4 separate regions of the Homo sapiens genome follow, and regions 2, 3 and 4 are each linked to region 1. Evidence: fine-mapped expression QTL. A gene starts in region 1. Each other region holds a variant in brackets. All regions are shown on one strand. Distances are between the middles of the regions.

Region 1 (8,346 bases):
ATCTTCCTTCACACATGGACCGTAAACGGTTCCCAGTTGTCTGAGAGCCTCATGAGGGTTTCTAGGATTTATGACCTTATGACCAGTTTTTTTCATTTACCAAGATTTTATTTTCCTACATGAAAATTTAATTGAGTAATAATTATTCACATGTGCATTTTCTTTTTAGCTGTTAAATGTACTATGCCATCATCCACCATTTAGTAAAATGTAGCTGGCCCAGGACATGTAAAAAAAAAAAAAAAACAACAACAATAAATAGGGCATGTGAAATGTTAAGTTACAGCAATAGATATTTTATTTGTATTTCATGTTAGTACTTTTTTGTTTTATATCACTTATAAAGGTACAGTGTACTCTTTGTCACAGCTCAGTTGGTAACCGCATTCCATTGAAAAGTTGGCCTTGTAAAATACAACTCTCATTTAATATTCATGCTTTTGTGCCTTTAAGAAAATATTTTTTGTCATTTTTTGTGTTACAGAACTATAATGTGATTCAAGGTGTTTATAGGCTTGTCATAAAAGGGTCATTTCTGTGTGTTACTTTCTTTTTATATAGCTATAGTATATTTAAACAATAATACTATCTTTTATAGGGGTTTGTCTATTTACCTATTCTTTACTCAGACATTGATGTAGACTTGTCAGATTATTCTGAGTATTGTTAACAGTGCCTTTTCGATGGAATCACACTTTTTGGCTGTCACCTTGTGCCATATACACACAAAATTTTGTGGAAGGCAGTTTTAACTTTCTGAAGAATATCTGTCAAAATTTAAGAAAACAAATGTATAAAATTCCATTTTTTCCAGTGTTTAGCATTTCTAGTAAGCAGTGAGGTTGTTTGACATACAGTGATGATGGCATTATTGATAAGCCATACATGAGACTGCAGATTATATTGAATCATATTAAATGTACAGAAATAAAATATTAGATTTATATCAAATTTTCCAATTTGAACCAGTGGGGAAAATCCCACAGAAATCAGTAAGTTTACATTTCAATTTCTATCTTATTTGACTAAGTGGAAAGAGATTCTTTAAAATGTATAACCTGCCATTATGTAATTTGGTTTCATTTTATTCTACCTGTTGTGTGAGTTTAGTATATTTAATTTACTTTTTGTTACTCTTTACATACTGTTTATTTTTGTTAGTTTTTAATTGAAGATGGACTGTTGAAATTGTATAGGACCAGTGTCTTATTAATATGATTAATATATTTAGAAGAGCCACGTGAAACCCATGACAAAATGAATGTGAATATTCTTTCTAAAAATTTAGAAAATGTTATCTTTTTGCATTTATTATGTAAAACTGTTTTACAGTATCAAAATTTTTCACTTAAAGAAAAAAAATGCCATGAAACATTTGAACTGATGAGCCACAGAACTTCAGTTGAAATTTTTTTCACTTTTTAGCATGCTAAATATACATCTGAGTTTAAATGTTCTGTTTAATGGCCATTCATAAATTCAAGCACTACCACTGGTCAGTTTTGTGTGATAGAATAAAAATATGTTACCTGCAGTGTAAGTACAGCACACTGTCAAATTCTTTTCCTTAAGGTGCACAGTAAATGTACAGATAGTTATAGGCCACTGTTTTGTAATGTAGTACATTTCTAATCTATTATTCCTAACCTATTATAACTGTTTGCAGAAAGAAAAGAATTTTTCTAATAATCTGTAAAATTATGCTAACTTCTACAAGTAGGCTTCTAAATAAAATTTTTAAAAAGAGCAAACGGTGATCAAGTGACTTTTAATACAATATGATGACTAAATTATTGCTAATTTGTTTTAATCCCCCCTTTTGTGGGGATAGGGATAGCTGCAAAGGATGGCAAAGGGCTTGAAAGGGATTCAACAGTGAGAATCCCTGAAGTATGCTTTGCTTGGTGCCTTATATTCATTCTTCTCGAATCCTCTATGAGAACCTTAGGTGGACGTTAGCCAGATTTTATACATGAAGATGCTGAGGCTCAGAGAGGTTGAAAGTCTCCAAAAGCTGCGGAGTAAGAGTGGTAGCCGACTCTTACTTTAAGAGTAAAAGCACAAGTTTGAATCTGTATCTCCGTGGTACACTTAAATAGAACTCTAATAGCACTTCACTTCTAAATGTCAGGAATATAATCCACTGCTTGAATCTATATTGAGTAATGTAACCCCTTTGTTATGAGTAGCACCACAAAAAAACCCTACTATTAAACATATACGAAATCCATATGAAAGGGTTTTTTTTTCCCCCCTCAGATCACCTATTAGTCCATACTGAGTCAACATCAGATGAGTTCCGAGACATCATTCCTCTCTGGTTTTCCCCCACCCTCCTTTCTTCCCATTCTTGCTCTCTGCTCAGGGTCCAGTTGCTTCTGGCTGTCATTTGGTTTGGTTTTATTAATTGGGGAGAAAAAGATGGGAGGGCCTGCCGGTTCCTCCTATCTTGTTCATAGCAATAAGGATTAAGGAAAACGGCCCCTCATTGTCCAACCTCGTGAAACATCTACAAGATCATTTTCTTGCTAATACTGGCATGCTTCGACTCTAGATGATGTATGTTGTGCCATTATGCTAGTTGAATCTTCTGCATCTCACAAAATATCACTTGTGGGAATAATAAACCAGGAGAGTGGTGACCTACCACAGTAATTTGGTGGGTGCGTCAGAGGCATCTGAACCAGAGCAACTCCAGTAATTTGGTGGGTGCGTCAGAGGCATCTGAACCAGAGCAACTCCATCTTGAATAGGAGCTGGGTAAAATGAGGCTAAGATCTAGGCTGCATTCCCAGATGATTAAGGCATTCTAAGTCACAGGATGAGATAGGAGGTTGGCACAAGATACAGGTCATAAAGACCTTGCTGATAAAACAGGTTGCAGTAAAGAAGCCAGCCAAAACCCACCAAAACCAAGATGGCCACGAGAGTGACCTCTGGTTGTCCTCACTGCTATACTCCCACCAGCACCAAAGACAGTTTACAAATGCCATGGCAATGTCAGGAAGTTACCCTATATGGCCTAAAGAGGGGAGGCATAAATAATCCACTCCTTGTTTAGCATATCATCAAGAAATAACCATAAAAATCGGCAACCAGCAGCCCTTGGGGCTGCTTTGCCTATGGAGTAACCATTCTTTTATTCCTCTTTCTTAATAAACTTGCTTTCACTTTATGGACTCGTCCTGAATTCTTTCTTGCATGAGATCCAAGAACCCTCTCTTGGGGTCTGGATTGGGACCCTTTTCCTCTAACAGGTGTAATATAAATATCTGTTGAGTGCTAACTATGCCAGGCACTATGCAAAGTGTTTAGTGAACATTCTCCACCTACTCAAAACCTCTTGAGATTTTTATTTTGTATATGTTATCTCCACTGGTTTTTTTGGCGGGGATTGTTTTGTTTTGAGACAAGGTCTCGCTCTGTCGCCCAGGCTGGAGTGCAGTGGTGCAATCTTGGCTCACTGCAACCTCCCTTCCCGAGTTCAAATTATTCTCATACCTCAGCCTCCAGAGTAGCTGGGATTACAAGCATGCACCACCATGCCCAGCTAATTTTTGTATTTTTAGTAGAGACGGGATTTTGCTATGTTGGCCATGCTGGTCTTGAACTCTCGGCCTCCTGTGATCTCCCACCTCGGCCTCCCAAAGTCCTGGAATTACAGCCATGAGCCACTGCGGCAGGCCCATTGTTTTTAAAGATGAGAAAAGCAGAGATCAAAGAGGTTACTTGGTGAATGCCACAGGTAAGGAAATGACAGAGCAAATCCAGGTCTGAATCCAAAGCCCATGCTCTCAAGTGCCTGTGTTTTAGGCCAGGCAAGGTGGCTCATGCCTGTAATCCTAAAACTTTGGAAGGCCAAGTTGGGAGGATCACTTGAGGCCAGGAATTCAAGATCAGCCTGGGCAACACAGGGAGACCCTGTCTCTACTAAAAGAGAAAATAACCAGGCGTAGTGAGGCACAAAGCGACTTGAAGGCTAAGACAGGAGGATCACGAGCTCAGGAATGCGGAGCTGCAGTAAGCTATGATCTCGCCACTGCACTCCAGCCTGGGCGGCAGAGTGAAACTTCATCTCTTAAAAAACAAAAAAAATGTTATAAGAGACAGTATTTTCTGTCTTTGGGTTATATACAATAATCCTTGGCCATGTGTTTTAAAGCATACTGTTGATCACCGACGTGATTAATGGATTTAAATCTGCACAGCGGCTCATGCCTGTAATCCCAACACTCTGAAAGGCCGTGGCAGGTGGATCATTCAGGTCATGAGTTCGAGACCAGCCTGGTCAACATGGTGACATCCCCATCTCTACTAAAAATACAAATATTGGCGGGGCACAGTGGCGTATGCCTGTAATCCCAGCTACTTGAGAGGCTGAGGCACGGGAATCGCTTGAGCCCGGGAGGCGGAGGTTGCAGTCAGCCGAGATTGCGCCACTGCACTCCAGCCTGGGCGACAGAGCGGGAGTCCATCTCAAAAAATAGAGACTTCGCATCATTTCTGCTTAATATATTTGTGGTGTCTAGAGTTTTATTGTGATACCTGAGTCTAGGAAATGTGGTAAAGCCTCTGCAGCAGACATAAAGCCTGCAATTCATGGCTGTGGCCAGGCTCTCCTCACCTGTCCTGCATCTACAAATTATTTCCGTTATGGTAAGGAGAGCAACTCGTGGGGAATGTGGACAGGAACATGCGTGAATCCAAGGCAGAGGTTTTGCCCCGGAAAAAGCAGCTTCTGGCAGGGGATGAAAGCCAGCAGAGTTCCAACCGGGGTGCCCTCTCCTTCACGCAGGCCCCACTACCGTGTTGACTTAGGAAGAAAGTTTCTCGGGAGACTAAGGGATTTGGGGGCAGCGGACGCCACTGGAGGGAGATGAATTCACCTAGGGAGCCGGGGAGGGGCTTAGGGTTGCCGCTCCAGGCACAGCTGCTGGAAATCCTAGTCTGTTTTTTCTGCCTTCGCGTACAACGGGCCAGCTCACCCCACCTGGCAAAGCTGCAGGGCTTTTCCACCAGGCGGACAGAAGGGCAGCCCTCTCGCCCAACCAAGAAGCCGTGCTACCCCGGCTTCGACTCCTGGCTTCCGGGTTTTCTCCCCGCCTATTCCGTTTCCGGCCGTTCCCACCCCTGTTTTCGGTCGGCCCGGGTGTTCTGCAAGCTGGTCAAAAAGGGGAAGCGGCCCAGATATGTTAAGTTCTATGGCCGCTGCAGGGTCTGTGAAGGCGGCGTTGCAGGTGGCCGAGGTGCTGGAAGCCATCGTGAGCTGCTGCGTGGGGCCCGAGGGACGGCAAGTTTTGTGTACGAAGCCCACTGGCGAGGTGCTTCTCAGCCGGAATGGAGGCCGCCTCCTGGAGGCGCTACACTTAGAGCATCCCATAGCCAGGTACCCGCGTCCCACACGCTAACCCGTAGCCGGGCACCCCAGGCAGCCTCTGTGGAGCTCTTGTCCCATCCTGAGGCGATGCGTACTTAGAAAGACTGACCTCGGGTGAAACCGCTGTATGCTCGGAATTAGAGCCCTGCCCAAGGGAACACTCCTGCACCCCAAATCTTACCAATTCTCAAGACCACTTCTCCCCACTCCACCCAACGGTGGAATCTTGGAATAGAGCAGAGTTTTTTCCAAGAAAGGAAAAAACTAAGGATGTATCCAAGGAACAATATTCTCATTTTATGCTTATGGCTGTGTAAACATGGTTTTAAGATGTGGGAAGCCAGCCTTCTGAAAATGAGTTGCTTTATTTCTTTTTTGTACAGGATGATAGTGGACTGTGTTTCCAGTCATCTCAAAAAAACAGGAGATGGTGCAAAAACATTTATTATCTTTCTTTGCCATTTGCTTAGAGGACTTCATGCAATCACAGACAGAGAAAAGGATCCTTTGATGTGTGAAAACATTCAAACCCATGGAAGGCATTGGAAAAATTGTTCTCGGTGGAAATTTATTTCCCAGGCTCTCCTAACGTTTCAGACACAAATATTAGACGGTATTATGGACCAGTACCTAAGTAGACACTTTTTGTCTATCTTTTCGTCTGCTAAAGAGAGAACATTGTGTAGGAGCTCTTTAGAGTTGCTCTTAGAAGCATACTTTTGTGGAAGAGTGGGAAGAAATAATCATAAATTTATTTCACAGTTGATGTGTGACTACTTTTTCAAGTGTATGACTTGTAAAAGTGGGATTGGTGTATTTGAGTTAGTGGATGACCATTTTGTAGAGTTGAATGTTGGTGTCACTGGCCTTCCTGTTTCAGATTCCAGGATCATAGCTGGTCTTGTGCTTCAGAAAGATTTTTCTGTGTACCGCCCAGCAGATGGTGACATGCGAATGGTGATAGTAACAGAAACCATTCAGCCTCTTTTTTCCACTTCTGGATCAGAGTTTATTCTAAATTCAGAAGCACAGTTTCAGACATCTCAATTTTGGATTATGGAAAAGACAAAAGCAATAATGAAACATCTACATAGTCAGAATGTAAAATTGCTCATATCTAGTGTGAAACAACCAGATTTAGTTAGTTATTATGCAGGGGTGAATGGCATATCAGTGGTTGAGTGTTTATCATCAGAAGAAGTTTCTCTTATCCGGAGGATCATTGGTCTTTCTCCATTTGTACCACCACAGGCCTTTTCGCAGTGTGAAATACCTAACACTGCTTTGGTGAAATTTTGTAAACCTCTTATCCTTAGATCCAAAAGATATGTTCATCTAGGCTTGATAAGCACATGTGCATTTATACCACACTCTATAGTTCTTTGTGGACCAGTGCATGGTCTCATTGAACAACATGAGGATGCTTTACATGGAGCACTTAAAATGCTTCGGCAATTATTTAAAGACCTTGATCTAAATTACATGACACAAACCAATGACCAAAATGGCACTTCAAGTCTTTTTATTTATAAGAACAGTGGAGAAAGTTATCAAGCACCAGATCCTGGTAATGGCTCAATACAAAGGCCTTATCAGGACACAGTTGCAGAGAACAAAGATGCATTGGAAAAAACTCAAACATATTTAAAAGTACATTCTAATTTGGTAATTCCAGATGTAGAATTAGAAACATATATTCCGTATTCAACCCCCACACTGACACCAACAGATACATTCCAAACAGTTGAAACGCTGACATGTTTGTCTTTGGAAAGAAACAGGCTAACTGATTATTATGAACCATTACTCAAGAACAATTCCACTGCTTATTCAACAAGGGGAAATAGAATAGAAATTTCTTACGAAAATTTACAGGTCACAAATATTACTAGAAAGGGAAGCATGTTACCAGTGAGCTGTAAGTTACCGAATATGGGTACTTCCCAGAGTTACCTTTCCTCATCTATGCCAGCTGGTTGTGTTTTGCCAGTAGGTGGTAATTTTGAGATCTTGTTACATTACTATCTTCTCAATTATGCCAAAAAATGCCATCAATCAGAAGAAACCATGGTTAGTATGATAATAGCTAATGCACTTTTAGGCATTCCCAAAGTCCTTTATAAATCTAAAACAGGAAAGTACAGCTTTCCACATACATATATAAGAGCTGTCCATGCACTGCAAACCAATCAACCCTTGGTAAGCAGTCAGACAGGTTTGGAATCAGTAATGGGTAAATACCAGCTACTAACTTCAGTTCTTCAGTGTTTGACAAAAATATTAACCATTGACATGGTAATCACTGTTAAGAGACACCCTCAGAAAGTTCACAATCAAGATTCAGAAGATGAACTATAACATCAGAAGTTTTTAATTAACCAAACTTTTCATCTAACTCAAGCCAAGTAAAGCAGTCATGTGACCACTGGTTCTAAAGTCAGTTCAGTCTACTTAGGAAAATAGCGTAACTTTAAAAGTCTTTAGAAGAAGCACACTAAGGTCACCAGACCAGATACAAATATTAAATTACTTTATGGAACAAATCTAGAGGGGAAGCCAAGATTTGGCTAAGTGTGTCTGTTTTTTCCCTATTTTATGCCTCTGTGTCTCAGCTCTGTGTTAGCCTATGTGTTTAGGGGAGGGTTTTTCTTTATAGCTCCTTTTTACTCTCCTGTATCTTTTTCACTCCAGCCCTCCTTCATCGTTACATGTTTAGTTCATAGAATCATTTAATCTCTGATTTGGGTGGGCTTATTCTAATTGTTTTTAATATTGAATACATTATTTGCATTAATTTTCCCTACTCATACTTTGTAAAGCTGAGTAAAAGGCTCAAATTATTTTTTTCAAAAAGCATAAAATTAAATTAGCAGTGAGTAAAAGGCTCAAATTTTTTTTCAAAAAGCATAAAATTAATTTTTACTTTTATGTGGTCATTGGTTTACTGCCACTTCATTTGGAAAACTTGG
Region 2 (8,346 bases), 150 kb before region 1:
ATACCTATATTGATAAGATATGAATATATACATATATATTGGATTAGTCAGGGTACTCTAGAAAAACAGTACCAACAGTATGTGGGGACACACACACATACACACACAAAATGGGGACTAGCAAGTATGAAATTTGCAGGGTAGGTCAACAGGCTGGAAACCCACCAAATTGCTGATGTTGCAGTCTTGAGTCTGAAGGCAGTCTGGAGGCAGAATTTCTTTTTAGGACCTCAGGTTTTTTTTTTTTTTTTGGCCTTTAAGTGGTTGGATGAGATCCACCCACATATTGAGGGTAACCTGCTTTACTCAAAGTCTACTGATCTAAATGTTAAACACATCTAAAAAAAAAAGTCTTCACAGCAACATCTATACTGATGTTTAACCAAACAACTGAGTCTCATAGCTTAGCCAAATTGACACATAAAATGAACCATTATAGTCTATGCCTTGTTACATTGGCACCCACCATATCTCTTTAAAAACATACTTGTTATAGGCCAGGCGCGGTGGCTTATGCCTGTAATCCCAGCAGTTTGGGAGGCCGAGGCAGGTGGATCACGAGGTCAGGAGATCGAAACCATCCTAGCTAGCACGGTGAAACCCAGTCTCTACTAAAAATACAAAAAAAAAAATTAGCCGGGCATGGTGGCGGGCACCTGTAGTCCCAGCTACTCGGGAGGCTGAGGCAGGAGGATGGCGTGAACCCAGGAGGCGGAGCTTGCAGTGAGCCGAGATCGCGCCACTGCACTCCAGCCTGGGTGGCAGAAGCGAGACTCCGTCTCAAAAATAAAAAAAAACATACTTGTTATAAGCTGAATTGTATCCCATTAAAATGCATATTGAAGTTTGAACTTCCAGCACCTCAGAATGTGACAGTATTTGGAGACAGGGTCTTTAATGAGATAGTTAAGTTAAAATGAGGTCACTAGGGTGGACCCGAATTCAGTATGACAGGTCTCCTTATAAGAAGAGGAAATTTGGATACAGACACGTACAGAGGGAAGACCATGTGAAATCTCTGGGAGAAAATGGCCATCTCAAGCTAAGGAGAAAGGTCTCTGAAGAAACTAAACCTGCTGAAACCTTGATCTTGGACATCTAGCCTCCAGACCTATGAGGAAATAATGTTCTGTTGTTTAAGCTACCCCCAGTTTGTCGTATTTTATTATGGCAACGCTAGAAAATTAATACAATAGTTAATCTCCAAACAAAGACAATAACAAAGTCATGCTTCCACCCAACGGTACAACTGTCTTGCGTAAAATGTACTTTTTCCCCAAAGAGAATGTAAAGTCCTTGGGTGATGTTCATTTTTCTTGTTATTCTGTAACTGAAATACTGTAATGTAGAGTTAACAATACTTAAATGCTATGAAATAAAGTCATTATATCTTATATGATAAAGCAATAAGAGAGGAAAGAAAACAAAGATATTTGATACACAACTGTATTCATAAAACAATAAGGAAGTAATAATCCCAGAAATTACAATTTTTGTCTCTGTAACTGATCACGTAATTGTAGCAGGTATTTATAACTACCTTCTTCCACTATCCCTTCTGTATTCATTTACCCTCAGCAAGTACCTCAACTGGTCATGGCTTTTGACCTGGTAGGATGACCCAAAGTTTCATTCCTGAAGAGTCTAGGCGATTACTAGTCCTGTCTAGATTGGATTGTTGTGATTTTCTGTTGACTTTAATCACCGAACATGCAGTACTAAAAGATATCCCATCATATTATCCCATCGTATCTGAAATATCCCATCGTATCTGAAATAGCTCCTGTATTTCAGACATACTTTCCCATACCTCTATTGTAGAGTAGCAGTCCAGTTTCTCCATGGTAATTAGGATCGCTCACCTCAGCCAGCCTAGTAAACCCCCTTCTTTGCCTGCTGATTCAGAGGCATGGGGACCTTCAAGTGGCCAAATGGCAGTCTTAACTTCGAGTTCAGTGGAATCATTGCTGTGTCTCCTGGTGAAGGCATTCCTCTCTTTGGATTAAGACCTCCAGACTGGCAAAGCGTAGGGTTATGGGGACAGGATGCAAAAATTGTATTAGTGGATCAATAGGGGTAATAGTGGATGATGTCACTTCCATTCCTCCCTCTCATTCTCAGAGCCATGCACCTTGGCTATAGGAGAAAATGCACTGTATGTTGCATATTGACCCAGAGCATATACAGCCTTCTGGCGATCCATGTATGAATTGCTCCATAGCTGATGCTACAATTGAGTTTTCAAAATGCCACCCCACTGTTCTGTCAAACCAGTTACTTCATGATGTTGGGGAACATGGTAAGGCCAGTGGATTCCCTGAGCATGGATTCATTGCTGTACTACATTTGCTGTGAAATGAGTTTCTTCTTCCAAAGCAATGCTGTATGTATTACTATTATGGTAGATGAGGCACTCTAAGTCTATGGATGTTAGTTCAGGCAGAAGCATTGCATGGAGGGAAGAGAAATTTATTCAAGTAGGAACAAAATGCTGCCCCTTCGTGATGGAAGCAGCTCAACGTAATCTACCTGCCACTGGGCAACTAGCTAATGACCCTCCACAGTGATGCTGTATTGAGGACTTGGTGTTGATCTCTACCGCTGGTCAGTTGGGCACTCAGCGGTGGCTCTAGCCAGGTCAGCTTTGGTGAGTGGAAGTCCATGTTGCTGAGCCATGCATAACCTCCATCCCTGTCACCATGGCTACTTTGTTCATGAGCCCACTGTGGAATGACAGCAGTGGCTGGAGAAAGAGGCTGACTAGTATCACAGAATGGGCTCTCCTATTTCCTTGATCATTAAAATACCTCTCTGCTAAGATCACCTGTTGGTGAGCATTCACATGGGACACAAATATCTTCACTATAAAGGCCCAGATAGTAAATATTTCAGGCTTTGTGGACTACATATTGTCTCTGTTACATATTCTCCTTTTCTTCTCTCCCCTCTCCCTTCTATTTTCCTTCTTCTTTATAGCCCTTTAAAAACATAAAAACCATTCTTACATTGTGTGCTATAGTTTGCTGACCCCCAGCTTACATGTTAAAAAATGCAAGATTCATTTAAGTGAAAATTGTATTGGGAAGGAATCCACATTTCCAGATAATGAGGGTTGAGGAAGGCACTGCATTTATTTTAATTATAAATTGGGATTTAAATCTAAGAAAACATGAATAAAGCACC[C/G]AAAGGTATTATAAAAACACACACTTATGTATATGTGTCTATGTGTGTGTGTGTGTGTGTAAAGATACACACACATACAATTACTCAATAAATAATTACAAATCACCTAATATTTTATAAGTTTATTAACCAAAGTTACTGGCACAAACTCAGATGCCTACTAGGACCTGGCAGATAAAAGGGCATTTTTGAAGTGGTTAAGTACACAGTAGTAACTGAACTGCTTATATGTCAGTAAATTCAAACGTTAGCAGAATGACTTTGCCAGACTTTGTGAGGACTGAGTAAAACATGGTTCCAAACATATATGTGGCCCCTGGGTAATCAGTTTTTATGATCACCTGTAAAAGCAGAGGCTTGTTTCTAACATCTATACTTTTAAGAAATTCTTTTTTTCTCTTACCCTGGTCATAAGAAAAAAGAAAAAAAAGAAAAAAGAAGGAAAATCTTTAAATTCTTCAGCATGTAGTCCTTGAAGGAAGATTTGTACTTTAAAACTGATGGGCTCCACTCATTCAGGGCAAGAAACTATAAAAGTATTGGGGAAAGTATAAAATGAATATGTTGTAATCCATTATTGTTAAAAATATAATCTTATAGGGAAGATAGGAACATATGCAATTTTAACAAATTTATATAAACAAATTTTAAAAACTTAAATAGTATTAAGTGATATATGAACTTTGGAAGTTCAAGAATCAAGAGAATACTTCTAGTTAGGGGAAATCAAGGAAGCCTTCGTGAAGAAGGTAATATATGACTTGGACTTCACTGGGTGGGTTGGGTTTGGTTTTGCAAGAGAAATATTTTCTAGAAGGAAGAATGCAGGCAAAGGCATGGAAATATGAAGTCATAAGAATAGGATCTATGAAGGCACTGGTGTATATGCAGAATAGCAAATAACTCAATTTGGCTGACACAAAGGGTCAGAGAAAGCAAGCAATAACTGAGAAAGGCAAGTATAAGCAAAATAATTGTTACCCTCCAATGCCAAGGCAAGATTTGGACTTAAATCTTTAATAAGCACAGCTGAAGTTTTTGATATTAAGTCGACATGATCACTTCTGTGCATTAGATTATAAAACTAGGTATAAAACTGATATAATATGTAGGCGTGAAGGCAGGGGCAAAGATAGAGGAAATGAATGCTTGAACACTCTTAAGAAATCTTCCAGGGCAGGTAAAGGATCATTGGAGGGTAGCTTTGAGGCAACTAGAACAGAAAAGGGCCTTATTGAGAGTAAGGGAAACTTGAGCATTATGGGCAATGGAAGGACTAACAGGACAAATTTTTTTTTTTTTGAGATGGAGTCTCGCTTTGCCACCCAGGCTGGAGTGCAGTGGTGTGATTTCTGCCTGCTGCAACCTCCGCTCCCGGGTCCAAGTGATTCTCCTACTTCAGCCTCCCGAGTAGCTGGGATTACAGCAGGGATTAGCCACCATGCCCGGCTAATTTTTGTATTTTTAGTAGAGACGAGGTTTCAACATTTTGGCCAGGCTGGTCTCAAACTCCTGACCTCTGGTGATCTGCCCACCTCAGCCTCCTGAAGTGCTGGGATTACAGGCATGAGCTACTGTACCTGGCTGACAAATTGATATTGAAGTAAAGGCTTTTACTGGGCTGGGCACTTTGGTTCATGCCTGTAATCCCAGCTCTTTGGGAGGTCGAGGTGGAAGGATCGCTTGATCGCTTGAGCCTAGGGATTCAAGACCAGCCTGGGCAACATGGCTGTATTAGGGTTCTCTAGAGGGACAGAACTAATAGGATATAGATAGATTAGATAGATTAGATAGATAGATAGATGATAGATAGATAGATAGATAGATAGATAGATAGATAGATAGATAGAGTTTATTAAGTATTAACTTACATGATCACAAGGTCCCACAACAGGCTGTCTGCAGGCTGAGGAGCAAGGATAGCCAGCCTGAGTCTCAAAACTGAAGAACTTGGGAGTCCAATGTTTGAGGGCAGGAAGCATCCAGCACTGGAGAAAGACGTAGGTTGGGAGGCTAGGCCAGTCTCCCCTTTCACGTTTTCCTGCCTGCCTTATATTCGATGGTGGATGATTAGATTATGCCCACCAGATTAAGGGTGGGTCTGCCTTTCCCAGTCCACTGACTGAAATGTTAATCTCCTTTGGCAACACCCTCACAGAAACACCCAGGATCAGTACTTTGCATCCTTCAATCCAATCAAGTTGACACTCAGTGTTAACCATCCCAATGGTGAAACTTCATCTTTATAAAAGACAAAAAACAATAAACGTAGCTGGGCATGGTGGTGTGTGCCTGTAGTCCCAGCTAGTCTGGAGGTTGAGGTGAGATGATCACCTGAGCCTGGGAGGTCAAGGCTGCAGGGAGATGTGATGGCACCACTGCACTCCATTCTGGGTGACCCTGTCTCAAAAAAAAAAAAAAAAAAAAAAGTGGGGAGGCTTTTATTACCACTAAGTGCCAGAGGGATTAGCTCAAAAGCATAGATAGAAAACTTAGTCACAGAAAGGATGGTACCTGATAGAGAAGAAATTCAAATGAGAGCTTATAAAATGTCTGCGTTCAAAGCATTTGAACATTTCTTTGTTTTAAAAAGGATTCTTGTATAGATACTTTAAATCAGTTGTCAGGACTCAAATACTTACACAACCTGGACAGGTAGCAAAAATGAGTGAAACAGTGAAAGTACAGATGCAAACATGGTGTGAGAGGTGCGTGCTTGCACCTTGTAAAGTGGATGGCTGCTACTCAGCTCTAATCAGTCATTGCTTAAGTGTTGCATCCATAGTTTCAAGACAAACCCTAAATTAATACTGTTATGTACAGTTTTTGATTTTTTAAAATATTGGCTAGAAAAAGGACCAGAATCAGGAATCAGAGCCAGTTTCCTGACATTGTGTGACCTCTTCTTTATATACGTAGACAGGGTTTCGCCATGTTGGCCAGGCTGGTCTCGAACTTATGACCTCAGGTGATCCGCCCGCCTGGGCCTCCCAAAGTGCTAGGGTTACAGGTGTGAGCCACTGTGCCCAGCCCAAATACTGATTTTTAAAAAATCATTTGCCTGAGAAATATCTATATGCCATTCATTGACTAACAAACATTTATTGGGCATTTATCACATGCTAGTCACTGAAAATGCATCCATATCCTTAAAATGGAATGATAAGGAAAATGTTCACACAAAAACAGTTGCTTTGTGTTGAAAAGTGTTGAAAGTGTTCAACAAAAACAATCTATATAAATTCATGTGTTCCTTAGTTAATATTTTTGATATAAAAATGCCCAATCCTAACACACTACTGCTTGTACAAGTTATGGAGAGAAGTGTTATATAAGAGTCTCTTCTGTTATTAGAGAATCAAAAGAAACTCCTGTCTTAGCTATACTTCTTTTGCCTCATGTTACAAAGGTACAGTAAAAAAGGACCTTATGCACTTAAGCCCTTACATAAGCTGCCTAGGCTTTAAGGGCACCAAAACTCAGAAAAAAGTTGTTTGGACAGAAGTATAAAAACCACGTAGAGAAGAATTCAGAAGAAGCTAATATTAAAACATACAGGGAACATACTGCTTCAGAAAGTGATAAAGTTAGTAGTGAGACACATGCTGAGCAAAGAAGCTACTTTTAGGGTTTAGGTGTAGGTCTAAGTGGAGCTAAACAAAGGAGAAAAACTGTGAGGGCAAGATTTGGGGTCACCAGGAAAGATTCCTTTATTATGCATACAATTGTGCTATTTACACGCGATGTTAACCTGAAACACTACACCAGGAATCACCAAAGTATGCTCTACTCCTATTTTTGTAAATACAGTTTATCAGACTCATTTTGTTTATTCATTTTTCTATGGTTGCTTTCATGCTACAACATCAGAACTAAGTAGTTGCAATAGAAATCCTATCATCTGCAAAGTCGAAAGTAAAATCTGTTTGCTGTGTGGCCCTTTACAAAAAAAAAAAAAAAATTTGCTGATTCCTAAGCTATACAGATACACTGCAATATCTATCTCCCTTTAGTTAAAAAAATTTTGATAAAAATATTTCCTTACTTAGTTCATGTATTGTGGAATGTGGGAACACATCACTGAAATGTACATAACCGAGTCTCTTTTATCAGGTACAAACACTTAAGGGTATTAAAGCCTCAGTATTCATACTGTCTGTTAAAAATGAAGGATGGGGCCAGGCGTGGTGGCTCATGTCTGTAATCCCAGCACTTTGGGAGGCTGAAGTGAGAGGATTGAGGCCAGGAGTTCAAGACCAGCCTGAGCAACAGAGTGACACCACATCTCTACACAAGTTAAAAATATTAGCCAAGGCCACGCACGGTGGCTCACACCTGTAATCCTAATACTTTGGGAGGTTGAGGCGGGTGGATCACCTGAGGTCAGGAGTTCGAGGCCAGCCTGGCCAACATGGTGAAACCCCATCTCTACTAAAAATACAAAATATTAGCTGGGCGTGGTGGCAGGTTCCTGTAATCCCAGCTACTTGGGAGGCTGAGGCAGGAGAATCACTTGAACCTGGAAAGCGGAGGTTGCAGTGAGCTGAGATCCTGCCATTGCACTCCAGCCTGGGCAACAAGAGCGAAACTCTGTCTCAAAAAAAAAAAAATGTATTAGCCAGGTCTGGTGGTGCATGCCTGCTGTGGTCTCAGCTATTCAGGAGGCTGGGGTGAGAAGATTGCTTGCACCCAGGTGGTTGAGGTTGTAGTGAGCTGTGATTGTGCCACTGCACTCTAGCCTGGGCAACAGCATAACCAAGACACTGTCAAAAAAAAAAAAAAAATTACACAGCATTTATTCATCAACATGTTAGACAACTCAGGATCACCAGATACTTGAGGAAAACCAACAGCACAGAAGGGGAAGGGTCAAGAAGAAGTAACAAATGACTTCAGAGGAAACAGAGAGGATTCCCTGGACGGAAGAACACCAAACAGCAGAGCACTTAAATTCCTGTGTAGTTAGAAAGATTCAAAAAAAAAAATACTACAGACATGAAACAAGAAGAGACTAATGTGTAATTGGGGAATAAGAATGTGTCGTTAAAAAAAGACGAAAGTTAAAAGTCAGTGGATGGGCTAAGGAATAAAATGGGCCAAAGATGGTAAATTGGTAGAATGTGCAAGTAAGGTGATCTGGGAAATAAAGTTGATAAGATACTT
Region 3 (8,346 bases), 120 kb after region 1:
CCCCTGCATACCCAGGTTTCAAGCTGCCCCAGTGCCAGGCCAGCCCCCATGGCCCCAGGCTCCATGCTGATCCCAAGGCCTTAGGCACCAGACTAGCACCAGTAGTGCCAAGCTCCACACTGATCAACCACATGGATTCAAGCTCCAGTCCCGCTTCAGAGGACTCAAGCTCCAAGCACCAGGCCAGTCCAGCCAAGGACTCCAGCAAAAACTCAAAAAAATCACAAAGGAAGACAGCACAAGAGGAAGAAAGGAGCAAAGGAACTATAAAACAATTAACAAAATAGCAGAAATCAATTAACAAAGTGGTAGTAGGCCCTTACCTATCAATAATTATTTTAAATGTAAATGGAGTAAATTCTTCAAGCAAAAGATAGAGAGGGTGGATGAATACATAAAAAACCAAGACTCAATGATATAACGCCTACAACAGACTCACTTTAACTTTAAGGACACACATAGGGTGAAAGTGAAAGGATGGAAAAAGGTATTCTATGTAAATGGTAACCAAAAGATAGCAGGGTTGTTATGCTTATATTAAACAAAATAGATTTTAAGTCAAGAACTATTACAACAGAGAAAGACGGTTATGATACGATGATAAAGTGGTCAATTCATCAAGAAGATAAAATAATTATAAAGGTGTATACACTCAATATTGGAGCACCTAAATATAGAAAGCAAATATTAACAGAATGGAGGGGAGAAATAGACAGAAATACAATAATAGTAGAGGACTTTAATACCCCACTTTTAACAATGGGTAGATCATCCAGACTGAAACTCAGTAAAGAAACAGCAGACTTGAACAACAACGTAGACGAAATGGACCTAAAAGACATATACAGAATGTTCTACCCAACAGCAGCAGAATATACATTCTTTTGAAGCACAATGAAATATCCTCCAAGATAGATCATATGTTAGGCCACAAAACAAATCTTAACAAATTTTAAGAAGATTGAAATCATATTAAGTATCATTTCTGACCACAATGGTATAAAACCAGAAATCAGTAACAGGAGGAAAATTTGAAAATTTACAAATATATGGAAATTAAACTACACACTCTTGAACATCCAGTGAGTAAAAGAAGAAATTAAAATATTTATCTTGAGGCCAGGCTCGATGGCTCACTCCTGTAATCCCAGCACTTTGGGAGGTCAAGGTGGAAGGATCACTCGAGCCCAGGAGTTCCAGACCAGCCTGGCAACATACTGAGACTCCATCTCTACAAAAAATAAGAAAAAAAATGAGCTGGGTGTTGTGGGGTGTGCACCTATAGTTCCAGCTACTAGGGAAGCTGAGGTGGGAGGATCACTTGAGCCTAGGAGGTCAAGGCTGCACTAATCTCCAGCCTGGGGGATAGAGTGAGATCCTGTCTCAAACAACAACAACAGCAAAACAATAACAACAACAACAACAAACAAATCTTGAGGCAAACAAAAATGAAAGAAACAAAACATACCAAAAGTTGTATACCAAGAATGCAACAGAAGTATTTTGAAGAAGGAAGTTTATAACAATTAATGCTTACATTAAGATTAGCAACCTAACTTTACACCTCAAGAGAAACTAAAAAAAGAACAAACTAAGACCAAAGTTAGCAGAAAGGAGGAAATAATAAAGATTAGAGCAGAAATAAATGAGAAACTAGAAAACAATAGAAAAGATAAACATAACTAAGAGTTGGTTTTCTTTGAAGATAAAATAAATAAACCTTTCACTAGACTAATTAAAAAGAGAGAAGACTCAAATAAATTAAAAATAAAAGAAAACATTGCAACTGATACCCCTGAAAAACAAAGGATCATAAGCAACTACTCTGAACAATTATATTTGAACAAATTGGATAACCTAGGAGAACTGAATAAATTCCTAGAAACATACAACCTACCAAGACTAAATCATGAAAAAGTAAAAATCTGAACAGACCAGTAACGAGTAACGAGATTGAATCAGTAATCAAAAACCCTCACAACAAAGAAAATCTCAGGTCCTGATAGCTTCACTGATTAATTCTATCAAGTATTTAACAATTTTCTTAATTTTTTGGCTGGGCACAGTGGCTCACGCCTGTAATCCCAGCACTTTGGGAGGCCGAGGCGGGCAGATCACGAGGTCAAGAGATCGAAACCATCCTGGCTAACACAGTGAAAACCCGTCTCTACTAAAAATAAAAAAATAAAACAAAATTAGCCGGGCATGGTGGTGGGCACCTGTAGTCCCAGCTACTCAGGAGGCTGAGGCAGGAGAATGGCCTGAACCAGGGAGGTGGAGCTTGCAGTGAGCCGAGATCCCATCACTGCACTCCAGCCTGGGCAACAGAGCATGACTCCATCTCAAAAATAAATAAATAAATAAAATTAATTAATTAATTAATTTAAAGTAGATATATATATGTATTTTTATAGAGACAGGGTCTTACTATGTTGCCCAGGCTGGGTTGAAACTCCTGGCCTCAAGCCATCCTCCTGCCTTGGCCTCCCAAAGAGCTGAAATTATAGGTGCGAGCCACTATGCCTGGCCCTACCAAGCATTTAAAGAACAGTTACCACCACTCTTTATCAAACTTTTCCAAAAAATTGAAAATGAGGAATTACTTCAGTCAAGTTATGAGGCCAGAATTACCCTGATACCAAAGCTAGAAAAAGATACAAGAAAAGAAAATTACACATCAATAACCCTGATGAACAGTCTCAACAAAATACTAGCAAACCAAATTCAACAGCACATTAAAAAGCATCATACACCATAATCAAGTGGGATTTATCCCTGGGATGCAAAGATACAAATCAATAAATGTGATATACCACGTTAACAGAATGAAGCATAAAAATCCTATTATCATCTCAATAGAGAAGAACCACTGGAGAGCACTCAACATCTTTTCGTGATAAAAGTATCTCAGCAAATTATGGGGCTGGGCGCGGTGGCTCACGCCTATAGTCCTAGCACTTTGGGAGGCCAAGGTGGGTGGATCACTTGAGCCTGGGAGTTCGTGACCAACCTGGGCAACATGGGGAAACCCCGTCTCTATATAAAAATTTTTAAAAATTACAAAAATCAACAAATTAGGTGTAGCAGGAACATACCTCAACATAATAAAGACCATATATGACAAGCACACAACTAATATTGTACCCAATGTTAAAAATCTAGAAGCTTTTCTTTATGATCTGGTACAAGACAAGGATGTTCACTTTCAGCACTTCCATTCAATTAAAAAAAAAAAAAGACATCCAAATTGGAAATAAAGAACAAAATGGTCTTTGTTTGCTGACAACCTGATAATATATATAGAAAAAGCCCTGAAAACTCCTCCATCAAAAAACCTGTTAGAATAAACAAAATCAGTAAAGTTACAGGATACAAAATCAACATACAGAAAGTAGTTGCATTTCTGTACACTAACCAGAGCTATTCAAAAAAGAAATTAAGAAAACAATCCCCAGGCCTATAATCCCAGCACTTTGGAAGGCTGAAGTGGGAGGATTGCTTGAGTCTGGGAGTTCAAGACCAGCCTGGGCAACATAGTAAAACCCTCATCTCTACAAAAAATAAAAATAAATTTGCTGGGCATGGTGGTGCACACCTGTAGTCCCATCTACTCAGGAAGCTGAGGAGGGAAGATTGCCTGAACCTGGGAGGTTCAGGCTGCAGCGAACCATGTTTGTGCCACTACACTCTAGCCTGGGCAACAGAGAGAGACCCTGCCTGTAGTCCCAGCTAATTGGAAGGCTGAGGCAAAAAGATTACTTGAGGCTAGGAGTTCAAGGCTGCAGTGAGCTATGATCACACCACTACACTCTAGCCTGGGTGACAGAACAAGACTGTCTCAAGACAAAATCCAACCAACCAAACAAAACCATTTAGAAATAAATTTAACCAAAATGAAAGACAGTACACTGAAAACTATAAAATATGTATGAAAATGAAGAAGACATAAATAAATGAAAGACTATTCCATGATCATGGATTGGAAAAATTAATATTGTTAAAAAATCCATTCTACCTAAAATAATACAGATTCAATCCAATCTCTATAAAAATTCTAATGGCATTTTCCAAAGAAATATAAAAAACAATCCTAAAATTCATAGTCAAAGGAATTTTGAGGAAGAAGAATGAAGCAAGAGACATTACAGCACCTGATTTCAAAATAGACTACAAGGCTATAGCAATCAAAATAGTATGGTACTGGAATAAAAACAGACACCCAGACCAATGAAACAGAATAAAAAGCCCAGAAGTAAATCCATATATTTGTGGTCAATTGATCTTTGACGAAGGTGCCAAGAACACACAATGGGGTAAAGAGAGCTTCTTCAATAAATGATCATGGGAAAACTGAATATCTACATGCAGAAAAATAAAATTGAACACTTATCTCACACCACATGCAAAAATTAACTCAAAATATATTAAAGAGTTAAACATAAGACCTGAAACGGTAAAACCACTAGAAGAAAACATGAGTGGAAAGCTGACACTGGTTTGGACAATGATATGAACAAAAGCATATGAATATTGGTTTGGACAATGATATGAACAAAACCATACAGATATGACC[T/C]CAAAATCCTAGACAACAAAAATAGGTAAATTTACCTATTTTTAGGTAAATGAAATTGCATCAAACTTAGAAGCTTCTGCACAGCAAAGGAAGCAATCAACAGAAAATAGAGATAACCTATGAAATAGGAGAAAATATTTGCAAACCCTATATCTGATAATGGGCTAATATCCAAAATATATAAGGCATTCAAACAACTCCACAAGCAAGAAAACAAATGACTAGTTTAAAAAATGGGCAAAAGACCTGAATAGGGATTTCTCCAAAGAAGACATACAAATAGCCAAGGGGAATATGAAAAACTGCTCATCATCACTAATCATCAGGAGAATGCAAATCGAAACCACAATGAGATATTACCTCACACCTGTTAGAATGGCTATTATCAAATAACAAGTGTTGGCAAGGATGTGAAGAAAAGGGAATACTTGTATACAGTTAGTGGAAATGTAAACTGGTATAGCTATTATAGAAAATAGTACAGGAGTTCCTCAAAAAAATTAAAATAGAATTACCATATGAGCTAGCAATCTCACTTCTGGGTACATATCCAAAGGAAATGAAATCAGTGTGTTGAAGAGATATCTGCACTTCTATGTTTATTGCAGCATTATTTACAATAACCAAGATTTGAAATCAAGCTAAGCATCCATCTGTGAATGAATGAAGAAAATGTGGCATATATATATGTGTGTGTGTGTGTGTGTGTGTGTGTGTGTGTGTGTGTGTGTGTGTATAATACAATGAAATATGAGTCAGCCTTAAAAAGGAAGGAAATCCTGTCATTTAGGACAACATGGGTGAATGTGGAGGACATTTCGTTAAGTGAAATAAACCAGGCACAGAAAGAAAAATAAATACTGCGTAATCTCACTTATATATGGAATCTAAAAATATCAAACTTACAAAAGCAGAGCAGAATGGTGGTTGCCAGGCACTGAGGGATGGGGAAATGGGGAGATGCTGGTGAAAGAGTACAGAGTTTCAGCTCTAAGATGAGTAAGTTCTGGAGTTCTAATGTACAGCATGATGACTATGGCAAATAATATTGCATTGTATGCTTTTTTTTTTAGACAGGGTCCTGCTCTGTCGCTCAGGCTATAGCGCAGTGGTGCCATCACAGCTCGCTGCAGCTATGACCACCCCGGCTCAGGCGATCCTCCTACCTCAGCCTCCTGAGTAGCTAGGACTACAGACATGCCACGTGGCTAATTTTTGTAGAGAGAGGATTTCATCATGTTGCCCAGCTGGTTTGGAACTCCTGGGCTCAAGGGACCCACCTGCCTTGGCCTCCCAAAGTGCTAGAATTACAGGCGTGAGCCACCACGCCCTCAAGAGTAGATCTTAAGTGTTCTCACCACACACACACACACACACACACACACACACACACACAATGTGAGGTAATTAGCTTGATTGTGGTACTCATTTACAATATATACATATATCAAAATATTACACTGTATGCTTAAATATATACAATTTTTATTTGTCAATTATACCTCAATAAACCTGGAAAAAAATTGAAAGAATACGTTCAACAAAAATCCATATCACTTCACCTAAATCCAGTACTGCCCCACACTTTACAGATCTCCTTTGCTTGTCCTCAGCCTTGCCCATCCCCAAGGGCTGGGGAATATTCTGGCTGACGGGCATGTCCATCTGGGGCCTATCTCCCACCTCTCCTTATTATTTTTATTTCATGATTCAGATATCCTAGAGTACAGAATCCCTGCTACTTTCATCTTTTTGGAGTCTGCTTACTTGAGGTTAGACCATATTCACTATGCACACTCCTAGACCAAAAGGTGGCCAAGGACCAACTGTGGGAGTGGGAGTGGGAGTGGATAACTGTAGCATGGATGGTGTTTGAACATATGAACTGGGGTGTCCACACATATGTGCAGGATGGACCGAGGGCTAGGAGGAGAAGGGAAACCCAGCTCCTGGCCAGATGACTGGAGGCTGGCTCTCCTTGCATTGCTGTGTGCTAGCATAAATCTTATAGGAGTTTGCAAATTTTAAATGTGATCTTGGCTTCTAAGTTATTATGAAGATATGCGGTCAAAGTAACAGTTAGTACATCTTTTTTTATTTTGTTAACTTGCCTTATAAAACTTTAAGTATTTAGGCACGTGGCTGAATAGTCTTCATTTGCATTTGTGTCCCAACCATGGCAAGAGTTAGGACAGGATGGCTTGGATACGCTAATTGCATACAATAATTGTCAGCATTTGCCACATTTGCTTTCTCTCTCTGTCTGTCTGTCTATCTGTCTATCTACGTCCTATCTGCCTGTGCAGCAATGTGCCTCTTTTTAAAGCTGAGCCTAGCCAGGTGCAGTGGCTCATGCCTATAATCTCAACACTGTGGGGACCCAAGGTGGGAGGATCACTTGAGCCTAGGAGTTGGAGACCAACCTAGGCAACATAGTGAGACCTTGTCTCCACAAAAAATTGAAAAATTAGCTGGGTGTGGTGGCACACATCTGTGGTCCCAGCTACTCAGGAGGCTGAGGCAGGAGGATCACTTGAGTTTGGGAGGTCTAGGCTGCAGTGAGCCATGGTTGGGCCACTGCACTCCAGCCTGAGTGACAGAGCGAGACCCTGTCTCTAAGTAAATAAATAAATAAAACTGAGCCACTTGAAAGTGTATTGCAGACATCATGAGACTCCATCTCCAAGTACTTCACCATTGTTTTCTAAGAGAAAGGACATTCTTTTTTATAATCACTATTCTATTATCACACCAAAGAAGTTTTACGTTAACATAATAAAATTATCTAATATCTACCCAATGTTCAAATCTTCTCCATTGTCTTTAAAATGCCCTGTTGAGGTTTTTTTTTTTGTGTTCTGTTTTTTAAATCTAGGATCCAATCAAGAATAACTACCACATTTGTTTTTTGTGTTGTATATAATAGTAATGACATTAGGAAATCACCAAAAAAGCATTTATCTTAAGTAGAGGTCAGGTCAGATAGCTTAGTGTAATTGGTGAAGATGTTAATACACTAAATATATTATATTGAAATAGAATGCAATGTCTTCAACATTTTAAGAGATGAGGGAAAATAAATGCCAACCACCTTCAAGCTTCATTTTATACTTTTTTCCCTCCATATTGTTATTCCTAAATGATATGTATCTGCTTTTCTTTCCATAGTCTTCTATTATGACTTTACCTTTGGCCTAAAATTTAGATGAAGAAAGGGAATTTCAAATGAGGGAATTTTTGTAAGGAAAACTTTAAGCAGGTTGTGTTCTCATGTTTTTAATTTGCAAAAATTTAAACTTTTGCACATTTGCAAATCCTTTGCAATGTTAAACACTGATTTTTCTCACCTCTCTCTTGGCCAGATATTTCTTTCTCAGTGTCTTTGTGTGCACAGTAAAACATTGATGTTTGTGAAAACTCAATCATTTCCTGTTAGCTCAATTTTTTGTGTGTGCCAACATACTATAATGTTATAATCATAGGGCTATATCTGTCTTGTAAAAGTTTATTCAAGAATAAAAAGATATGCAGATAAGTAAATGGTTTTTAAAATCTCATTATAGACTATGTCTTCTATATATTTTTTATCTTCCCAGGTGCCCATTATAGTGTTCTACACATATTTAAGATTATTGACTAACAAAAAAGCAAAATGAACAAAAACTAAAATAAAATAAAAATAAAAAGAATGTTCTTCACAGGAAACACATGAAACAGATGAACTTTGGGTGTTAGTAATCAATATTCCTAGATATTCATTTGGGGAGGTCATA
Region 4 (8,346 bases), 180 kb before region 1:
CCCATTTTTATTCTAGAAGTTTTATAATGTTGGCTTTTGTATTTAGATTTGTGATTCATTTTGAGTTAATTTTTGTTTAGTATAAAAGCCAGGCTGTTTTGGTTGTTCTTGTTGTTTTTAATGAATATCCAGTTTTTACTGAAAGTATTTTCTTTTTCCCAGTGGGTTTCCTTGGCAGTTTTGTTGAAAATTAATTGACTCTGTTTATGGGTCCATTTCTAGACTCCTTATTCTATTCCATTGATATATGTGCGGTATGCTAGTACCACATTATTTTGAATGTTTTTGTAAGTTTTGAAGGTAGTGTAAATCTTCCAAACCAACATCATCTCGAAAATAGTAAAAAAACTTTGCATAGTTTACTCTCTTGACCTCATTGCTTGTGTGTATGTGTTGCTGATTTTTGTTTTTCATTTGTTTCTTTTTGTGAGTTTCTGCTTTCCAAGATGTTGCCACCACCAGGGACTTCCTGCTTGTTATTTTCCAATGCAGATATTGTATATATTAAGGAAGAAGCAAAGTACTTTCAGCTAGTCGGAAGGAATTAGACAGCAATTGGTATTCTTCTTTAGCCCGTTATTGGTAGTAAGCAACTCTAGATTCCAATAGTATATGATTTTTGACAAGGTCAGTAAATTGGGGTTGCAGCAACAAAAGTGTGTACCAGAAGCCCTGTGTTTAAATACCACGTCTGATACTTGACAGGAAATGAAATTGTAACACTTTTCAATTTAAAATTGTGTTTCTTTTCCTTCTTCGCCCATTCTTTAACAGAAACATTCCTATCCTTGCCTGAAGCAGTCTTTTGCAGGAACATTTGAGGTACTGTAATGGCAGTTGCCAAACTATAGTGTGTGTTAATTGGGAACATGTTGAATTGAAGAAAAATGTTAGATAAAAATTGCATTTAATTTTGTTTCTGACTACATATAAATGGACATTTAAAAAATCTCATTAATGAATACAGTTCCTGGTTTCAAAATAGCACTCAGGTATTTTCCCCTTCTTAAACCACTTTAGTTTACAGTAAAAATATTAGGAGAAAAGGTAAAATGTAGCATATTCAATTATAATATTGATTATATATGAATGTTTTATTTCACGTGTATTTTTGGTCTTTCCGATTAAATCGTGTGCTTTCCTAGATAGAGATTTTATCTTCTGTTTATTTTGCCTCATTTCTCACCTACTGGAAATGACTATAGATGTTGGTTATGCATTTGAATTAACTTGTTTTGATGAATAGTAAGTCCCAGGCTATAGTAGGAATATAGATGTATTTTTTTTCCTACTGAAATCACATTTGTCCTTTGAAAGACATTTCTAAGCTTTGCACTTGATAACAGCTTAGAATTTTGGAAAACCGGTAGGTAATGAGGTGGAGATGAGGTTAATAATCTCATTTCTGAGCGCTTGAGTTTCTCGCCTTTAAGTTGTTGATATAGACTGATCGTTGTTAAGTGCTTTTGGAGGGCTGGTCATCACTTGTTTGTGTCTGCTCCTGTGTTTGCCTCATAAAGACTTCAGTGGATTGCAAGATCAGTCAGACAAATGGAAACATCAGTCAGCTGCTCAAATAGATATTTTTAGAAATGTTTTTCTTCTTAGTCCTAATCATGAAGTTTACCGCAAATCCTTCATTTGATAGTGGGTAAGAGGAAATGAAGCAGGAGCTCCAGAGAAGGCACCTTGAGTAGTAGGATCCAAATGAAAATTGAAGAAGAGATTACATTCCTGAGTAAACATTTTTTTCTCCTTATGATTATTATCAAAACCTGGTCTTAAAAAAAACCTGGTTCTTGCATATGGTTATAGGATAGGTCTTATGTAATGGAGTTTAAAAACCTAGCAAGAAACACATAAATGAATACTATGCTATTGTATTTTTTTCTTATGATAGGATATATGGTGTTTTAAAATGTTCTATGTCTGACATTGATTTTACTTTTGTAAATTCATTTAAAAATATTTTGAAGTTAATTTTTATTTTATTTCCTTATTCAAAGGTAGACTATTTTGGTTACAAATGTGTTAAATAGTACCTATATCAATTTAGGGTTTTTCGGTTCAAGTAATAGAAAGGTTTGGGTAACTTAAATGATTTACTAGGATGATAAGCTCATTTTCTTCCAAGATGAAAAATGGAGTTTTAGAAATAGTAGACATTTGAACAGCTTTAGGGATCTAGAGAGCAGAAAGCAACAATCTTTGTGGAGCCCCCATTAGGATAGTTTTTTTTGTGATTGTTTTTCATTCACGTGATCACTCTGCTTGTGATTCACATTTATCAGAGAGAGAGAGACAGGCATGGACTGATTGGTCTGGCTCTTTTTTTTTTTGTCCACTCCTTTTGCTAGGAGAGCGTGGAGTACCAAGATTGCATATGTTGGAGGAGGGATGTTCCTTTCCCAAAAGAAGATCAAGGTGGATGTTAACAGAGGAAGGGGAAATGGGTCCGGACAGGTTAAAACAAAAATCCAATACTGCCGTAGTTTCTAGGTGGATATAACATTTTTAGAAATCTTATAATACAATATTAACTTCATTGGCTGAACCCAAGCCTTTCAGCCTTTATAGATTTGCCATGATCCTAATACATATAAGCATTCATTGTATTCATTATTAATTACTTCATAGATTCAGTGTGTGACGAAGGGAGATGATTTTTAACAAATAATAAAGTGAAATGATCTAGTTTTGCTATGTTGTTTGAGCAACATCAAATAGTTTTGCTTAAAATAGATAATTTATAGTGATTTTTTTTCACTATGGTATTTTCTTAAATATATTAAGTGCTTTTCATTTTCTGATACCACCTAGTTTAATTGGGGGTGAATATCAGAGAAATTAGAATGTTATTTCAGCTGAAGGAGTACAGTTTTTTTTTCTCTTCTTAGAGAATATAGTGCCTCAGATACAGTCCACAACAAAAATTTTTGTTTAGAAAAGAAAAATTTTAAGGAACAGATTTGTCAATTTCTGTGTATTTTTTGGTCAGTTTTTTTTTTTTTTTTTTTTTGAGAAGGAGTCTTGCTCTCTTGCCCAGGCTGGAGTGCAGTGGCGCGATCTCGGCTCACTGCAAGCTCCGCCTCCTGGGTTCACGCCATTCTCCTGCCTCAGCCGCCTGAGTAGCTGGGACTACAGGTGCCCACCACCATGCCTGGCTAATTTTTTGTATATTTAGTAGAGATGGGGTTTCACCGTGTTAGCCAGGATGGTCTCGATCTCCTGACCTCGTGATCTGCCTGCCTCGGCTTCCCAAAGTGCTGGGATTACAGGCGTGAGCCACCGCACCCGGCCTTTTGGTCAGTTTTTTTTAGTGCGCAGTACTTAATTACTATACCTTCAAAACTAAACAATTACTATACCTTCAAGACTACTGGATTTGATTTTAAGTTTTACTACATGGCCTGTTAATTCAGTTATCTCTCCCCCAACCCACACATGTTGAAGGCTTTCAATTGTTTCCTGTTTGTATATACACAGTACTCTTCACATATTGTCACAGTTTGATACATCTTATTAATATTTTCCTGTCTCCTCATTCTCCATTTCTTAAAATCCATGTGGGTTTGCCAAAAAGGTGCCTGTAGAAATGTACAAGCAATTGGTCTGAAGGGACTAGTTTTTATAACCTGAGTTGGACCTAACTTGAATGATGGAGGGAATACTTTATTACCATTGAATTACTGAAAGTCAAATTTAGATTGCTGATCTGCTTGGAAGCTAACTAAGAAAAGGAGAATGGTGTCACTTAAGTAACACAACTTGTTTTTCTTTGTGCTTGTTTTATGATGCTAAGTGAGTGATAAAAGGTGATACAATGACTTTAAAAAGCACTTCTGGTGGTTTTATAAGGCAATTTTCCCTGCTCTTGCTCACTCTTCTCTGTCCTGCCACCATGTGAAGAAGGTCCCTGCTTCCCCTTTGCCTTCTGCCATGATTGTAAGTTTCCTGAGGCCTTCTCAGCCATGTGGAACTGTGAGTCAGTTAAACCTCTTTTTATAAATCACCCAGTCTCGGGCAGTTGTTTATAGCAGTGTGAGAATGGACTAACACAATGGTACTATAACATTTAATAAAAATAATAGGGATGGCAATTTATTATGTCTATAGTTGGGTTCATTTATGTAGTTCATTGATGAGAACTTATGTTGTTTCTGGAAGTGGAAGATCTTCAGTCTAATACTCCTTTGTTAGTTATGTCTTCAGGGAAGTGAATTAAGCCTTCATGCCTTTATTGCTTTATTATACTATAAAGAGTCTGTTTGCTTGATGATAAAGTTAGCTCCTTATCTCTGCCAGTCCACAATTCTTAAGTGTCTAAGGAGCACCTACTGTGATAGGCACCTCCTGTGATAGGCACTCTTCTAGGTGTTGGGAATACCTCACTGAACAAAACAAACTGCTTATGGAGCGCTTCTATTTGGGGATATAATATACTATACTTA[C/T]ATGTGGGGATATAAACAAATGTGTGTGTCAGGTGTTAAGTGTCTTGGAAAAAAAAGTAGTTGGTAAAAAGATGAATAAAAGAATGGGAGGAGGCAAGTTGCTATTTTGCTATTTGTAGCTAGGATGGTCAGGGAAGATCTATTTGATAAAATGGCATTTAAACAAAGAAACCTGCAAGAAGTGAGAGAGTGAACCATAAGGAAGAGTGTTTTAGGCAAAGAACAGCAGATACAAAAACCTTGTGGTGGCTGGGTGTGGTGGCTCACAGCTGTAATCCTAGGACTTTGGATGGCTGAGGAGGGAGGATTGCTTGAGGCCAGGAGTTCAAAACCAGCCTTGGCAACATAGTGAGACTTTTCTACAAAAAAAAAAAAAAAAAAAAAGCCAGGCCCGGTGGCACGTGCCTATAGTTCTTACTACTTGGGAGGCTGAGTAAGGCTGAGGATCCCTTGTTTCCAATAGTTTGAGATTATAGTGAACTATGATCTTGCCACCACACTCCTGACTGGGCAACAGAATGAGACCCTGTGTCTAAAAAGAAAAGAAAAAAAATGTGGAAATCTGCTTGACATGTTAAAGGAATATCATATCATAGAGGCTTTTGTGGATGGTGCAGAATGAGCAATCAGCATGTTACTTCACTACTCTGAGCCTTAGTGTCTTCATTTTGAAAATGGGGCTATAGTGAAAAATTACTTGCTTTATAGGGTTTATGTGATGACTACATTATGTAATAATGCATTTAAAGCAACTAGTAATGTGTCTTCGAGTATAAAGTGGATCATGTTCCTGCCTTGCATAGGCTTTTCATTGGTTTCCTCTTTCACAGTGAATAAAATCCAGACTCTACTGTCTCTAGAGCCTTATCTCAGATAGTTCTCCTCATTGCTTACTATGCTTTAGCCATGCTGGCCTTTGAATAATGAGCCTATTCTTATCTCGAGTCTTCTTCCCCCACTAGCTTCTTCAGTTTTTCACAGAAAGGGTTTCAACGATGTATTCAGATACAGATCTACTGTTTTAATAGAAAGCCAAATGAACAGTGGCTTAAATAAGAATTTTTTTTTTTTTTTTTCTGTTTGGTAGTAGCAGGTAGGTAATCCAGAGCTGGCATGACACTGCTATTCTAAGGCAAGTACAAATGGTTAGTTGCTTCATGGTTTAGAGGCTCAAAAGGTTTCAGCTGGGTTTCGTAATCTGACATACCTTCTAAGCTTTGATTAGGTTTCTACAAATCCACTCACCAACTGATTTGTTTTTGGAAGGGGATAGTAACAAGTGCCCAAGAAGGGAAAAATAGCAAGGATTCCAGTTTTCTTAAATTTATTTTTCTGAAGTTTTAGCATTATCTTGTATTTTCCTTATAGTGTGCACCTTAATATCCTAGTTCAGTTTCTGATTGTTAGTTCATAATGCTTTAAATAATTGTTGTTCCTAAGCAGAAGCCCTTAGTATAAGAAACAGCTTAGAATCCTTAATGTTTCTCACATTTGAAATTCATAATGATATTTTAGCTTTGTCATAGTTAAAAAAAAACAAAACAAAACTAAGATTGAAATGAAGTAGTGACATAATAACTTCATACTGCTTTTTCAGAGGTAGACCACACTACCCCTGTTTTGGACTTTGGTATCCTTGGTTAATTCTGGCATAAGATTGTGTTATAGCTTGAGAGGAGGTTGGGAGAAGTGAAAAATTTGATGAAATTTTAAAGTTGCTATACTTTACTTATTTTTATTTTTATTTTTTTGAGACAGGGTCTCCCTCTGTTGTCCAGGCTGCAGTGTAGTGGCGCCATTATAGCTCACTGCAACCTCTGCCTTCTGGGCTCAAGTGATTGTCCCACCTCAGCCTTCCCTAGTAGCTGTCTGTAGCTATAGCTATAGCTAATACTATAGCTATATCGTTGTGTGGGTGTGTGTGTGTGTGTGATTCTGTTACACTTCCTTATCTTCTTTGGCTTGTGACAACTATCTTTTATTTTAGGATGTACCCTTTCTATAGTACTCACTTGATTCATTTAATTTCTGAAGCTTTTTGGGTGATGACTAACTTCATTGCAGAGGCATTTGGTTATTAAGACTGGACTCGACAAGGCATGATTTATATATAAAATATAAAAGGATTGTTCAAATTGTCTAAAAGCACATAGAAAAAATTCTGGTAATCAAAACTAACTCTTATTTACAAGAGTGAAGTTTCTTAGAAATGGCTCGTGAATCATGATTTCATCTTCTGTTATTAATAATAATACTTTTTTTTTTTTTTTTTTTGAGACGGAGTCTCGTTCTGCATGTAGCCCAGCCTGGAGTACAGTGGCATGATCTTGGCTCACTGCAGCCTCCGCCTCCCAGGTCCCAGTTCAAGCAATTCTCCTGCCTCAGCATCCCAGGTAGCTGAGATTACAGGCATGTGCCACCATGCCCAGCTAATTTTTGTATTTTTAGTAGAAACAGAGTTTCACCATGTTGGTCAGGCTGGTCTTGAACTCCTGACCTCGTGATCCGCCCACCTCGGCTTCCCAAAGTGCTGGGATTACAGGTGTGAGCCACCGTGCCTGGCCAACAATAATGCTTATATATTAGAAGGTAAAATGCTACAGGGGGTTGTATTTGGTAGCAGTTAAGTAGACAGGGATAAACAGACAGTTGGAAGACAACTCTTTATTGATTTCTTGCATTTCTGCATATCTTGCAAGTAAAGCACTGACTGCCTGTTACTCTAGACTACCTTTTCAAGAATGTTTATCTAGTGAGCAGCCTTGGAAGATAATGATAGTATTTTCCTCCTTAGGAAAAGAAAAGGCAGGCATTCTTGCTGTCCATTATAAAATATTTGGGTTCCCTAAGCTCAGGACTCTTCTGTATTGCAACTCAATGTTTTTTGTAGGCATTTCCCTGGGCCTGTCTTGGTATGGATAAGATAATTCGATAACTAGAAAAGGTAGGAAAGTAATTGGAACATGTAGGATTCTCCAAACTGATGGCTTTACAAATGTTTTAAATTTTGCTTCACTTTAAAGAACTACCCGTAGAGCTCTCAGACCCATGTATTATAGCTGTGGTTTAAACAAGGAAGATATGTAATTCTAATTGACAGATTTATACTCGATGATAAGGCTTTCCATCAAAAGATTGGAGATATATGTATATTTCAGTTGTAATAAAATGTTTAACATATTGTTTTGGTTTCCTACTTGAACTGATTTTTCTTTTGAAGAGCTGACTTTTTCCTGATTAGGTAGGATCAAAGGGTTTTAATTGAAGTTGAAAAACCTTAGAAAACTGTAATTAATGTACTTTATTGATTGGTTGTAGTTATTGTAAGTTGCCTCATGTTGCACAATCCCCCCCCACCCCGGCCCACCACCCTCCTTAATTTATTACTCTAAAGACAGGTCCTAATATGGACCTTAAAGTTGAGGTGGTACCGTATACCTTACATTCTTTTGCATTGCAGTGATTATGTCAGCAATATATAGACAGCAGGTAAAACTGCTGGCTGTTAGATTGTAGAATATTAGAATTTTAATGAGTGTCAGTAATTGACATTTTAGCCTCATAATTTTACTTATGAGGAAACTGAGGTCCAGAGGTGTAAAGTGGTTCACACTTAGTTCTCAATAGAGCTCTGGACTTAAAAATGAGATTTACTGGCCAGGCATGGTGGCTCACACCTGTAATCCCAGCATTTTGGGAGGCTGAGACGGTGGATCACCTGAGGTCAGGAGTTCGAGACCAGCCTGGCCAACATGGTGAAACCCTGTCTCTACTAAAAATACAAAAATTAGCTGGGCATGGTGGTGCACGCCTGTAATCCCAGCTACTTGAGAGACTGAGACAGGAGAGTTGCTGGAACCCGGGAGGCGGAGGTTGTGGTGAGCCGAGATCGCAC

Alleles and levels. Alleles are on the strand shown, and positions count from the first base shown. SD is a standard deviation of normalised expression in the study named. Not every link is listed here.
In carriers of allele G in region 2, the expression in prefrontal cortex of the gene that starts at base 5,133 in region 1 tends to be lower than with C alone (moderate effect, 0.72 SD a copy in BrainSeq).

What was found. PIP is the estimated chance that this variant, and not a neighbour inherited with it, causes the effect. A credible set is the group of variants that fine-mapping cannot tell apart.
Region 2: its variant is the best candidate, but not a certain one, in a credible set for the expression of BBS10 in prefrontal cortex (BrainSeq, PIP 0.73).
Region 3: its variant is the best candidate, but not a certain one, in a credible set for the expression of BBS10 in putamen (GTEx, PIP 0.70).
Region 4: its variant is the best candidate, but not a certain one, in a credible set for the expression of BBS10 in whole blood (GTEx, PIP 0.87).

The regions. Positions count from the first base shown.
Region 1 is chr12:76,345,202-76,353,547 of GRCh38, reverse strand. BBS10 (Bardet-Biedl syndrome 10) reads left to right here and starts at 5,133. Exons shown (of 2, transcript NM_024685.4): 1 at 5,133-5,386; 2 at 5,761-8,346. The coding sequence starts at 5,190. The coding sequence ends at 7,735. It overlaps OSBPL8 (oxysterol binding protein like 8), which reads left to right. Exons shown (of 24, transcript NM_020841.5): 24 at 1-1,751. RefSeq lists enhancers at 4,732-4,781, 3,928-4,877, 4,878-5,827.
Region 2 is chr12:76,495,992-76,504,337 of GRCh38, reverse strand. All of the region lies in intron 1 of OSBPL8 (oxysterol binding protein like 8), which reads left to right. Among named protein-coding and RNA genes, the nearest start is that of OSBPL8, 60 kb to the left of the region's middle. The variant C/G (reference allele first, on the strand shown) is at 3,184.
Region 3 is chr12:76,223,732-76,232,077 of GRCh38, reverse strand. No RefSeq gene overlaps it. Among named protein-coding and RNA genes, the nearest start is that of LNCOG, 32 kb to the left of the region's middle. The variant T/C (reference allele first, on the strand shown) is at 4,574.
Region 4 is chr12:76,526,710-76,535,055 of GRCh38, reverse strand. All of the region lies in intron 1 of OSBPL8 (oxysterol binding protein like 8), which reads left to right. Among named protein-coding and RNA genes, the nearest start is that of OSBPL8, 29 kb to the left of the region's middle. RefSeq lists an enhancer at 3,332-4,060. The variant C/T (reference allele first, on the strand shown) is at 4,452.